Homo sapiens: one gene and its partners. The gene in region 1 interacts genetically with each later gene. Each region holds a gene or a part of one and is shown on either strand. Other genes may lie near its edges.

Region 1 (3,730 bases):
TTTGTCTGGGGGTAGAGGCCCCAAAATGTTGGTACTGACCATACTCTGAGAAACTCTGCCCTATGGCTAAGGTTTTCCAGCCTTACAATTATGGATCCTACCTGTTGTTCTCACGGAACAATCGGACGCTGGGTGGGAGAACAGAGGCAGGTCGGTGAGAGGTGAACACACCAAGCCAATCACAGCAGCCTGAGACCATTCCTCTTTACGTACTTCACATATTAAACACATAAAACATCTATCATTTGAAAAGATGAAAAAAATCCTTGGTTATACAATGTTTGAAAACCTGTGCCTCAGAAAAAGAGATTAAAAGAAATCCCAATTTTCTGTGCTTCCAGAGTCTTCAATTTTAACTTCGAAGAATATAAGTGCTGGCTGGACGTGGGAGGGCTCTAATGGGTGAATAGCTGGGCTGTAGCCTCATATGTTGTCGAAACAAATGGAAACTTCTGAAACCCGAGAAGGTGCCTTTCAAGTATTTTTAGTTGGCAAAAGATAAGTGGTCAACATGAGAGGTGATAACATGATGTACATGAAGAACCAGTTACACTGTTGGTACTAAGAACGCAAGCATGTCACACTAAAGACTTGTAAGAGGACGTCAAAGAACTGGAACGAGTCATTGAAGTAGTTTTTACAGCAGTGCCACTCAAGCTTTAGTGCTCATCAGAATCACCTGAGGACCTATAAAAGCACAGATGACTGGGCCCAGACCAGTTGGCCTTGGATGGAAGCTGAGAAGTTGCGTTTCCAGCAAGCTCCCAGGTGATGCTAACACCGCGGGCCCAGGGGCTGTGCTTTGAGTAGTACTGCCCGAAATAGTAAAAAATAGTATTCCTTAAAATATGGTCAGTGAATAAAATCTATTTTTACTACATTTTCAATAAGAACGTTGAGCTGCACCTGGGCTCCAGGGTGCCTGTGTGTAAATTACCTTCATGTGTTATTGGTGTTTCCTAAATGAGGCGCCATTCATCATCTCCTGACAGATGAGATGAAGCTATTGGACCTAGCAAAAAAATAGGAGGCTCCTCCAATATCCGTCATACAGTTAACGAACTACATAAACAAATAACGATTGAGTCCTTACTCTGTGCCAAGCACAGTGCCAGGTACTGGGATGTAGCAGAAAATAGAAACAGACAAGATGCCTACCTCAACGGAGCTATTCTATTTGGAGCAGCTAGTAAGTGTGTGTTCTATCGAGAAACAGCAGAGTCAAGGGGACAAAGAGTATTGGTGGGGAGTTCCGTAATATACAGCAGCCGCGAGGCCTGTGTGATGAGCTAAACTGTGAGGAGGGCACCCTCAGGGAGCATCCATTTGTGTGCCAAATGGCAGAGGCGACAGCAACTCGTGAGCCCCAGGCAGGCCCCCGCCCAGAAAACGCAGCAGCCAGTATGGGGTGGAGCTTGGAGCAGGTGGAGCTCGGAGAAGAGGATGTCAGAAAAAGGGCAGGGTGGAGAGGTCAGGTAGGGTCTGCTGGGCCCAGGATTTGACCCTGTTGAGAAAATTTGACTTTTGAACAATGGAGTGACATGATCTGACTTCAGGAAGCCTCATGCTGGCTGCTTGTGAAGGAACTGCAGGAGGAAAGGGTGGAGGCAACACAACCCGGAAGGTTTTCAAATCCTAGAACTGCTGCACTGCCCAGAACATCGCGAACGGGCCATACCTGCAGGCGGTGTCGGTGAGTGCTTGCCGCAAACCTGGCACTATAGAAACCCTGTTTCCCTGAAATACCTCTTTTAATTCCTTGCAGCCTTGTAAGGTAGACCATGTTCATATCCTCTTTATAGATGAGGAAACTGCAGAGACCACTTGAGGAACCGACCCAGACAATTCAAGCCGTACCCAGGGACCGTCTCACTTCAGAGCTTATGTAAAATATCCAGTAGCCTGTGTTTTCCTGAATATAGCTATCAGGTGAAAGGAAATTTTGCATTTCCTCTAGATGTTTTGGTTAGAAAGTAGATATAGTCTTAAAATGGACCTTTTTGAAGAGTCATGTTAATTGATTTCAGCCAAGTAGTCAGATTTTAAAACTATATCACAAGGTATACTACTTTTTCAGAATTTTTTGCTTTTGAGAAAAAAAAAAGAAAAACTGTGGCCACGCTGGCCAGTCTGGTCTGGAACTACTGACCTCAGGTAATCCACTGACCCCGGCCTCTTGAAGTGCTGGGATTACAGGTGTGAGCCACCACACCCAGCCCCATGTTTTTGCTTATATGCTTCCAAAAGGAGAGGAGACATGTCATGAAATAGAGCGGGAAGGAGTGTCAGCATGCAATTGACAAAAAGCTGCGGAGAGGAATACCATGCCGGGGCAGCACAGGCTGAGGCTGGCCCCGTCTACCTTGTGCTTTTGTTCGTGCCTGTTTGGGTTCATGCCTCTGTGGGAATTGTTTTGCTTTTTGTGGTTGGTTATCTGTTTTGAAACATAAAGAAATAAAAAGTAACTGTGGGGGAGAGTAGGTGAGAAATGACAGCATTGGTTGTTGAAGTTAAGTAAAGTACTTGTAGGGAGCCTCAAAATGTTTTGATTTTTCTGAAGTCACCTCTGCAAGGTCATATTGTGATTTCAAGGGGAAGGGAGACATTGCATTCAAGACTCCATGAGGCCTGGCTGGACAGTGTGCTCTTCTAACGACAGGCCTCTACAAATGGTAGTGTCTGGGTGTCCCTCTCCTGGAGGCCTACATGGCCAGTGAAGCAAATCATTTACATCTTTTACTCTTCAAACCCTGAAGTGTTTCAGAGGACACTGCCCATATGCCAAGATGGGGAGATCTGCACTTGACAGGAATGAGCGTGGAGGCAGGGTATTTACAGCTGGGGAGGTCCATCTTGGGAATCATCTGAGCATCGTAATTATTGCAGAGTCTGCCAAAAATGCAGGCAGGCTGCTGGATTCCACTTTCTTAAAGGGAAGATAAAGAAAAAATTTCAAATTAAGTGGTAGAATTTAACTGTCTGTAATACACTCTTTTCAATCTTTCTAAATTTGTTCTGAGTAAATAAGGACTAATGGAAATTTTGTGAAATTTTATAGAAGGTGTTATTTTGTATGACCTGTAGCTTCCAAACATTTCATACATAAATCAAGAATTTATGGTCTACTTATGTAAGAAAAACAGAATTAATAAAATATCTATTATATAATAGAAAATGAAACCCTTATGACAAGGAAAATATCACTACATTCTTTTTTAGAGTACTTTTTGATAATTTCACAGAATCAGGCCCAAACTCCTACACCTTCTTCATCTATTTGACTATAATTAATTTTCCAAATGATACCTCTGATGCTCTGTAAGATCTTACAATTCTTCCTCAATCCCCAAAGGTTGACTACCTTTGGTGTTAGAGGTGTGTTATTAGATTCTAATTCTTTGCAAATTAATGCTCAATCTTTTCTGTGCATGATAATTAAACTCACTAGAGTCCCAGTGCATCAGTGGGGTTGTGATTTGCTTCCTGTAAGAAGGGAATCAAATGGCCGATAATTTACTTCAGTGGATTAAATGAAAATCGTTTGAACCAGTGTTTACCACAGTTCCTGGTATATACTACGCACTGAATACAGAATTTTTGTTGCTAGAAAATGCAGTCAAAAAGGGTGACAGACATTGATTTTGAATCCTTGAGCGCATTCATGGTACCTGGGCTGTGATGTGTCTGCCATGCAAATGCTAAGCCGACTGGCAGTAAGTGTGGGCCCCGG
Region 2 (3,730 bases), on another chromosome or scaffold:
ATGCAGGCAGATTGCTTAAGCCCAGGAGTTCAAGATCAGCCTGGCCAACAGGGCGAAACTCCATCTTTACAAAAAATACAAAAATTAACGGGATGTGGTGGTGCATGCCTGTAGTCCCAACCATTCAGGAGGCTGGGGTAGGAGGATTTCTGGAGCCTTGGAGGTTGAAGCTGCAGTGATCCATGATCATGCCACTGCATTCCAGCCTAGGTGACAGAGTGGGACCCTGTCTCAAAAAAAAAAAAAAAAAATTCAAATAATTCAGACATCAAATATGGCAACTGGAATGAATCTTTGCTCATTATTTAATGGAAGTCAGAATCAAGGTATCATCTGACCGAGATCCCAGATAACAGATTAAGGTCTGTTTGGACATTAATTGGAGGTTTTGAATGATCGAGATTCTCTTTAGTTTAAAGAACCCACACCTTCATGGAGTGTTGTAGAACAGAAGGCTTCAAATAATTATAATGAGATAACCCCAGATCTAACTGTATTTTTATTTTACTGGGATAAAACTCCTGCACAGAGGTGGAGAGAGAATAAAGGGAACATGTCTTACCATGGCCTCTGGTCTGGGAATAATTTGTGACAAGTCTAGAATCTTTTCTAATGAGAGGAACCAGCTTCTCCAATGACTTTAGCAATACTGGTTTTAAGTTGAGTGGAACAAATGGCTCTTTCATTGCCTTAGATTGTAGCTAGCACTGACAAGAAAGAAAGGGTTTTTGGAGGTTGAAGATGACAGTGCCATACAACTATCTGAGTCTACACAGATTTCCCTAGAACGCCTGTATTCAAGTAATAGAACATTTATCATGGCATATGGTAAATTTTCTTTGAGAGGTGGATTAGTCATTAGGTATTCTGCCGGACTTTTAAGTGGAAACTTACTGTTTTATGAGCAATTTTAAAGTTACTAATAGTATTCTTAGGGAAAATGTGCTCAATATATGAGAATGGTGCTGAACAAATATTTTATGACTTCCCATTAATCTTTTAGTAATCATTTTATATATTCCCATGCAAATGAAAATATTTAGCTGATGACTCTAACAGGAAGAAAAGTGTTTCTTAGAGTGCACTTTTATTTATAACTCCATTTCTGAATGGTGTATGGTGAAGTTAACTGAATTTGGATCTTCCACAAGAAAGAAAAGTTTTATAATATTCAAATAAGAAATCCAAATAGTTTCCTTTTCCATTGATCATAATGAGAATGTGTCCTTTTCTAAAGCTTGTCAATGAAGTATAAATAGGAAAATTGATTTTTTAACTTCCCTTCTATAGATATTGTCTGGCATTCAGCTTTTAAGGATTATATATAAAACAGCAGCACCCAATAACTGATTAAAGAACAATTTGAATAATTTATTATTTTCTGTAATCCTTTTCCATAGGTGTCATCATTCGTTCATTTGTTCACCATTCATTGATTTATCAAATGTTTACCTGGCTTTTCTTCTATGCGAGGTACTATTAGGAGTGGGCAGGAGAAGGCAATACAGGAAGAGGGGGAAAAGTTTCCAAAGATGAATATCATAGATGAGCCACTGCCATTAAAATTACAGAAAAGTAAAGTAATGTTCTACACCATGATGAATATTATAATAGAGGTTTGAACAAAGCATCGTGGAAGCTCAGAAATGGCACTGAAATGGGTCAAGTCACAGTTGTGCTTGTTATGACCAGAGATGGAGAAATTAAAGGGAAAACTGTGCTCCCTCTAATTCTTTTCAGTTACATTCTTACTATTAATCTTCATAAATTTCATAAATGCCTATACAGCCTAGATCCATGATGAAAAGTTACAAATGTGAAAATCTTTTAATTCTTGCTTTTTTGTTTCCTTTAGCTTTCCCAGGATAGAAAGTCCATAATAATAATTGGCAAAATAATTCAGCAAATAGTTCAGTTCTAGAAATTTCTTTTAAAATATGGAATTTGTGCCAGTGCCTAGGATATCTATCTCTGCTTTACAATTAGTCCTTATTAGCTATAAGGACACTAAATACGTCAAAATTAAACATTTTATTTAAATGAATGGCTTATTTGGCAATGTAATAACAGTATATTAAATTGAGTCCTTTTCTTCTGAAAAAATCAAAACATATACAAATTGTTTAACTTGACCTTGGAGAACCTAAGAAAGAAGATGGACAAGGGCGATACTTTAGACTCCATTGTGGAGTCGAGGAAAGGGGAGCACGATGAATGGACTTTCTCAAGAATTGGATTAATCTCTCAAGCACATAATCAGAGTGAAGATTTATTCTGAGCTCCTGAGGGCTCCCAAGGTATCCTGCCATGTCAGCAAAGTATCCTTCCACAGAGACAAGGAGGCAAATGTGTCTGCAGAAGTAAAACAGATATGAGCTTATAAGTTTACCGAAGGCTGAGTGGGTGAGGGTCTACCTTTGCTTTCATATTTAGGCTGCATGGACCTTGATACAATTTTTACACCTTTAATGGCATTCGTCTTATGTGCGGCAACCTTTTAACAGTATCCCATTGGAAGCACATGGACCTGTGTCTGGGATGTAGATTGTGGGAGAGGGATGGGAAGGCAGCTATGCAGTGCAGTTTGTCTCTGCCTCTGCACTTCTGCTCCATCCTCCAGGGATGCGCCTGTCATTTCACTTCCCATGAATTGACCTGCCAAGGTCCAATAATGAACTCAACCTTGTTGCCAAGACTAACTCTTAAATATCCTAATTGGAATAATACTCTTTGTGCCAGAAGAGATGATCTCATCCAAAATTTCAGAGTGGAGTTGAGAATGGGATTACTGCAACGTCAAATATGGAGGGTCTTTTTTTATTTGCAGAGTAAGTGTAGGTACTTTTCATAAACTTCCATAAAACGCAGGATATGATCACTGTGTCAGTCTTGTTCTTGAGACAGAATACTTTCCATTTGTGAATTTGTAATAGTTTTCAGTGTTATCTGTCTGTACACTTGAATAGTTCATAGCATTCATTAATGAGGCCAAGGTCATTGATTTGATCCCTGCCTAGAATGAGACATTCTTATTAGGTCTGTGACTCTATTCAGGGATGTTACTTTTTTCTTTTTTTCTGTCAAAATAGCCCCTTCCTCATCAATTCCCATCTTCAGGGCCTATCTTTACTATTGTCTTCCTAATTCAAATCCTTTTTATATCGGAAAAGCATCTGATAAGCCAATTCGCATCAAGATATGCAATTTAGAAATAACTGCCTTTTATAAGAAGATTGAATCAAGAAAGAAATTTCCTTAACAGACTACCAATAGTGAAATTTTGGTTAAAAGCAGATAAATTCTGTCCTAAAATATGGTTTCTCAATTTTATTAAAATCATGATGACCTAACTATACATAATTTTGTTTTTAGTTTGAGTTCACAGTCATGCAAATCAATATCATTAGTCAGAAAGGGAAATAGGTAAAAATGTGTTACTGCTTTTTGGAAACTCATCAGAACCCCAAGGTAAGGAACTGAAATTCCAGGTCACTTTAAGATTGACTAGGAACATCATAATAATACCAAAGATTGAGAACTGGACTGTGGGCTTGGGGGAAATATTACATTTTGAAATGATTTTGTAATTACTGAGAATAAACATGGAATCTTTAGAATCTAACATAGATGGTTTATATCTTAAGACAAAATGTTGCTAATCTTGCTTCATTTACATTTTTATTTTAATAAACACCTGACAGATTGATAGGAATTATAACATGTTAGGTTG
Region 3 (3,500 bases), on another chromosome or scaffold:
CAACCTCTGCTTCCCAGGTTCAAGCAATTCTCGTGCCTCCGCCTCCTGAGTAGCTAGGATTACAGGCAGGTGCCACCACGCCTAGCTAATTTTTGATTTTTTTTTTTTTTTTTTTTTGAGACTGAGTCTCGCTCTGTCACCCAGGCTGGAGTGCAATGGCATGATCTCGGCTCACTGCAAGCTCTACCTCCCAGGTTCACACCATTCTCCTGCTTCAGCCTCCCGAGTAGCTGGGACTACAGGCGCCCACCACCACGCCCGGCTAATTTTTTTGTATTTTTAGTACAGACGGGGTTTCACCATGTTAGCCAGGATGGTCTCTATCTCCTGACTTCGTGATCCACCTGCTTCGGCCTCCCAAAGCGCTGGGATTATTATTTTTAGTGGAGATGGGGTTTCACTGTTGGCCAGGCTGGTCTCAAACTCCTGGCCTCAAGTGATCCACCCACCTCAGCCTCCAAAATGTTGGGATTACAGGTATGAGCCACCACGCCCAGCTGGGAGTTGGCTTTTTTTTTTTTTTTTTTTTTTGAGACGGAGTCTCACTCTGTCGCCCAGGCTGGAGTGCAGTGGCATGATCTTGGCTCACTGCAACCCCTGCCTATCGGGTTCAAGCAATTCTCCCGCCTCAGCCTCCTGAGTAGCTGGGATTACAGGCACACGCCACTACACCTGGCTGATTTTTGTATTTTTAGTAGAGACGGGGTTTCACCATGTTGGTCAGGCTGATCTGGAACTCCTGACTTCGTGATCCGCCTGCCTCGGCCTCCCAAAGTTCTGGGATTACAGGCGTGAGCCACTGCGCCCAGCCAGGAACTGGCTTTTTAAAGGAATTTTGTGTGGACCCTTTTACAAATAACCAATTCTTTTTTTATTTTTTCTGAGACAGAGTCTCGCTGTGTTGCTCAGGCTGAAGTGATTCTCCTGTCTCAGCCTCCTTCACCTCCCAGGTTCAAGTAATTCTCCTGTCTCAGCCTCCCGAGTAGCTGGGATACAGGCACACACCACCATGCCTGGCTAGTTTTTTTGTATTTTTAGTAGAGACAGGGGTTTCACCATGTTGGCCAGGCTGGTCTTGAACTCCTGACCTCAGGTGATCTACCCGCCTCGGCCTCCCAAAATGTTGGCATTACAGGCCACCACACCCGGCAATAACTGATTCTTAATGCACCTGGTTCTTAGGTTTGGATTTGGGGTTTCAAATTCAAATCAAAGTCTCCTGGGGTATAAGGGCCCTTGGAGATCATTTGAACCAAGCTCTAGCTCCTTTGGTCTTGGGGACAGCTCCAATTACTAGAACATGATTTAAATTGAGCCACACAGTCCTTTGCCTGGGGATTTTGCAGCCTGTACTTACTGGAGGCATTTCCGTGTTCGCACAGCAGGCCCTTCTGATCAGCTCTCAGGCCTTGCTGACCTCCTGGGCCAACACTGAGCCATTAGCCCCTGTCAGCTATGTCTTGCTGGTGGCTTTAGTAGGGACATAGGAGGGCCTCTCAGAGGGAAGGAGGGGAGGAGAAATGGTCACTTTGCTTGCTCCTTCCCAGACGGCTGCCCCTGGCTGGTGATCGCAGATTTTGGCTGCTGCCTGGCTGATGAGAGCATCGGCCTGCAGTTGCCCTTCAGCAGCTGGTACGTGGATCGGGGCGGAAACGGCTGTCTGATGGCCCCAGAGGTGAGTCCCGAGTGTGTCATGCGCCATCGGCAGCCCTTCCCCCACATGTCCACTGAATGCAGGAGACTCGATGCCTTGTGATAACCCAACACCTCCATCTTTTCTGACCCATAATTTGGCACAAGTTCCTTCCCTGCCACTTTGCTTTCCTCCGGCGTTCCCTCATGTTCCAGGAGAATGCAAGTCCTGTCACATAAACCAGGTGGTCTAAGCAGACCCCTTCTGGGTCTGAGCCACAGCTCACTCAAGCTCTGGGTTCCTTGGGACAGAGTTCAGATTAGCCCATGGATCAGGTGATGTGCAGGACATGAAAAGGTTAGATGGGCGGGCAGCGTGATGTCTCACCCACTGCTTCTGAGCAGGTGTCCACGGCCCGTCCTGGCCCCAGGGCAGTGATTGACTACAGCAAGGCTGATGCCTGGGCAGTGGGAGCCATCGCCTATGAAATCTTCGGGCTTGTCAATCCCTTCTACGGCCAGGGCAAGGCCCACCTTGAAAGCCGCAGCTACCAAGAGGCTCAGCTACCTGCACTGCCCGAGTCAGTGCCTCCAGACGTGAGACAGTTGGTGAGGGCACTGCTCCAGCGAGAGGCCAGCAAGGTGAGGCTGTCCCCGGCTTCGAGGGGACGGTGTGGGTAGAAACCTCTGTTCTCGTTCCAGAGTGAAGGTCAGGTTTGGGCCAGAGCCACAGTGACAGATCCTCTGTGTTAGGAAGGTAAAGGCTAGTTACAAGAGAACAAAAAACAGATTTTAATGTAGGTAGGAGTAGGAGCACTAGCCACCACAGCATAGTCAGAATCCTAGCAGTTCAACTCCTGTGGCTTTTTTAGTTGCTGAAAAAGTTGTTCAGAGGCCAGACACGGTGGCTTACACCTATAATCACAGCACTTTGGGAGGCTGAGGCGGGTGGATCACTTGGGACCAGGAGTTCCAGTCCAGCCTGGCCAACATGGTAAAACCCCGTCTGTACTAAAAATACAAAAATTAGCTGAGTGTCGTGGCACACGCCTGTAATTCCAGGTACTCGGGAGGCTGAAGCAGGAGAATCGTTTGAACCCTGGAGGCAGAGGTTGCAGTGAGCCAAGATCGCGCCACTGCACTCTGGCCTAGGTGACAGTGCAAGTCTTTGTCTCAAAAAAAAAAAAAAAAAAAAAAGGCTATTCAGAGAGAGAAAAGGAGGCATTTTTGAGAAATGTTTAATGGAGATGTAGCTCATGGAAGCAGCTGAGAACTGATCAGAGAGAGATGGAAAACATCTCCTGAGAGCAGATCTGGACATTGTGAAATTAATATAAAGGAATGCAAAGGCAGACCTATCCGAAGCCATAATTGGAGTGGCAGCTGGCTCAGGGGCAGGCTTAGTGCAAAGAGCTGAGCCATACCTGCACCCCAGCACTGTTCTGCCACTCCGTTAACTGCTCTCTGTACGTGGCCTGCTATCTTGGTGCGCAGTGAAGGTTAGAACAACAGCTGCAACCAGTTATGAAATGATAGAGGAGACTACTTACCTGGTTCAAGGGACCAGATAGCTGTGCACAAGAGGCACTAGGCTTTCCACCCAGGGGGAAAGGCTATTTCAACAATGCATGCTGCCCCATGCAGAGGTGTACACATGGAAAAGCTTGGAGCACGGGCAGGGGACAGGCAGTATTTGTCACCTGAGTGAAGGGCATCAGTAGGAGATAGGGTAGAGGAAGAATTGGGTTGGGACCAGAGAAGGGAAGACCCTCACTAACAAAGCAGGCTTTGGGTTGAGACTGTGTTAACAGATGTTCTAGCTACAGCTTCCCTTCCTGTTGCAGAGACCATCTGCCCGAGTAGCCGCA

Evidence for each region.
Region 2: of PRKN (region 1) and GPR37, changing one suppresses a phenotype caused by changing the other (phenotypic suppression), as found in Homo sapiens cells (one study listed by BioGRID).
Region 3: of PRKN (region 1) and PINK1, changing one suppresses a phenotype caused by changing the other (phenotypic suppression), as found in Homo sapiens cells (one study listed by BioGRID).

What each region holds. Positions count from the first base shown.
Region 1 is NC_000006.12:162,255,677-162,259,406, reverse strand, and holds part of PRKN (E3 ubiquitin-protein ligase parkin), read left to right. Parts: intron 1-3,730. UniProt on the Homo sapiens protein: Functions within a multiprotein E3 ubiquitin ligase complex, catalyzing the covalent attachment of ubiquitin moieties onto substrate proteins. Substrates include SYT11 and VDAC1.
Region 2 is NC_000007.14:124,755,588-124,759,317, reverse strand, and holds part of GPR37 (prosaposin receptor GPR37 precursor), read left to right. Parts: intron 1-3,730.
Region 3 is NC_000001.11:20,646,958-20,650,457, forward strand, and holds part of PINK1 (serine/threonine-protein kinase PINK1, mitochondrial precursor), read left to right. Parts: intron 1-1,357; exon of another isoform or gene 1,358-1,547; coding exon 1,548-1,675; exon of another isoform or gene 1,676-2,037; coding exon 2,038-2,274; exon of another isoform or gene 2,275-3,476; coding exon 3,477-3,500. UniProt on the Homo sapiens protein: Serine/threonine-protein kinase which acts as a sensor of mitochondrial damage and protects against mitochondrial dysfunction during cellular stress.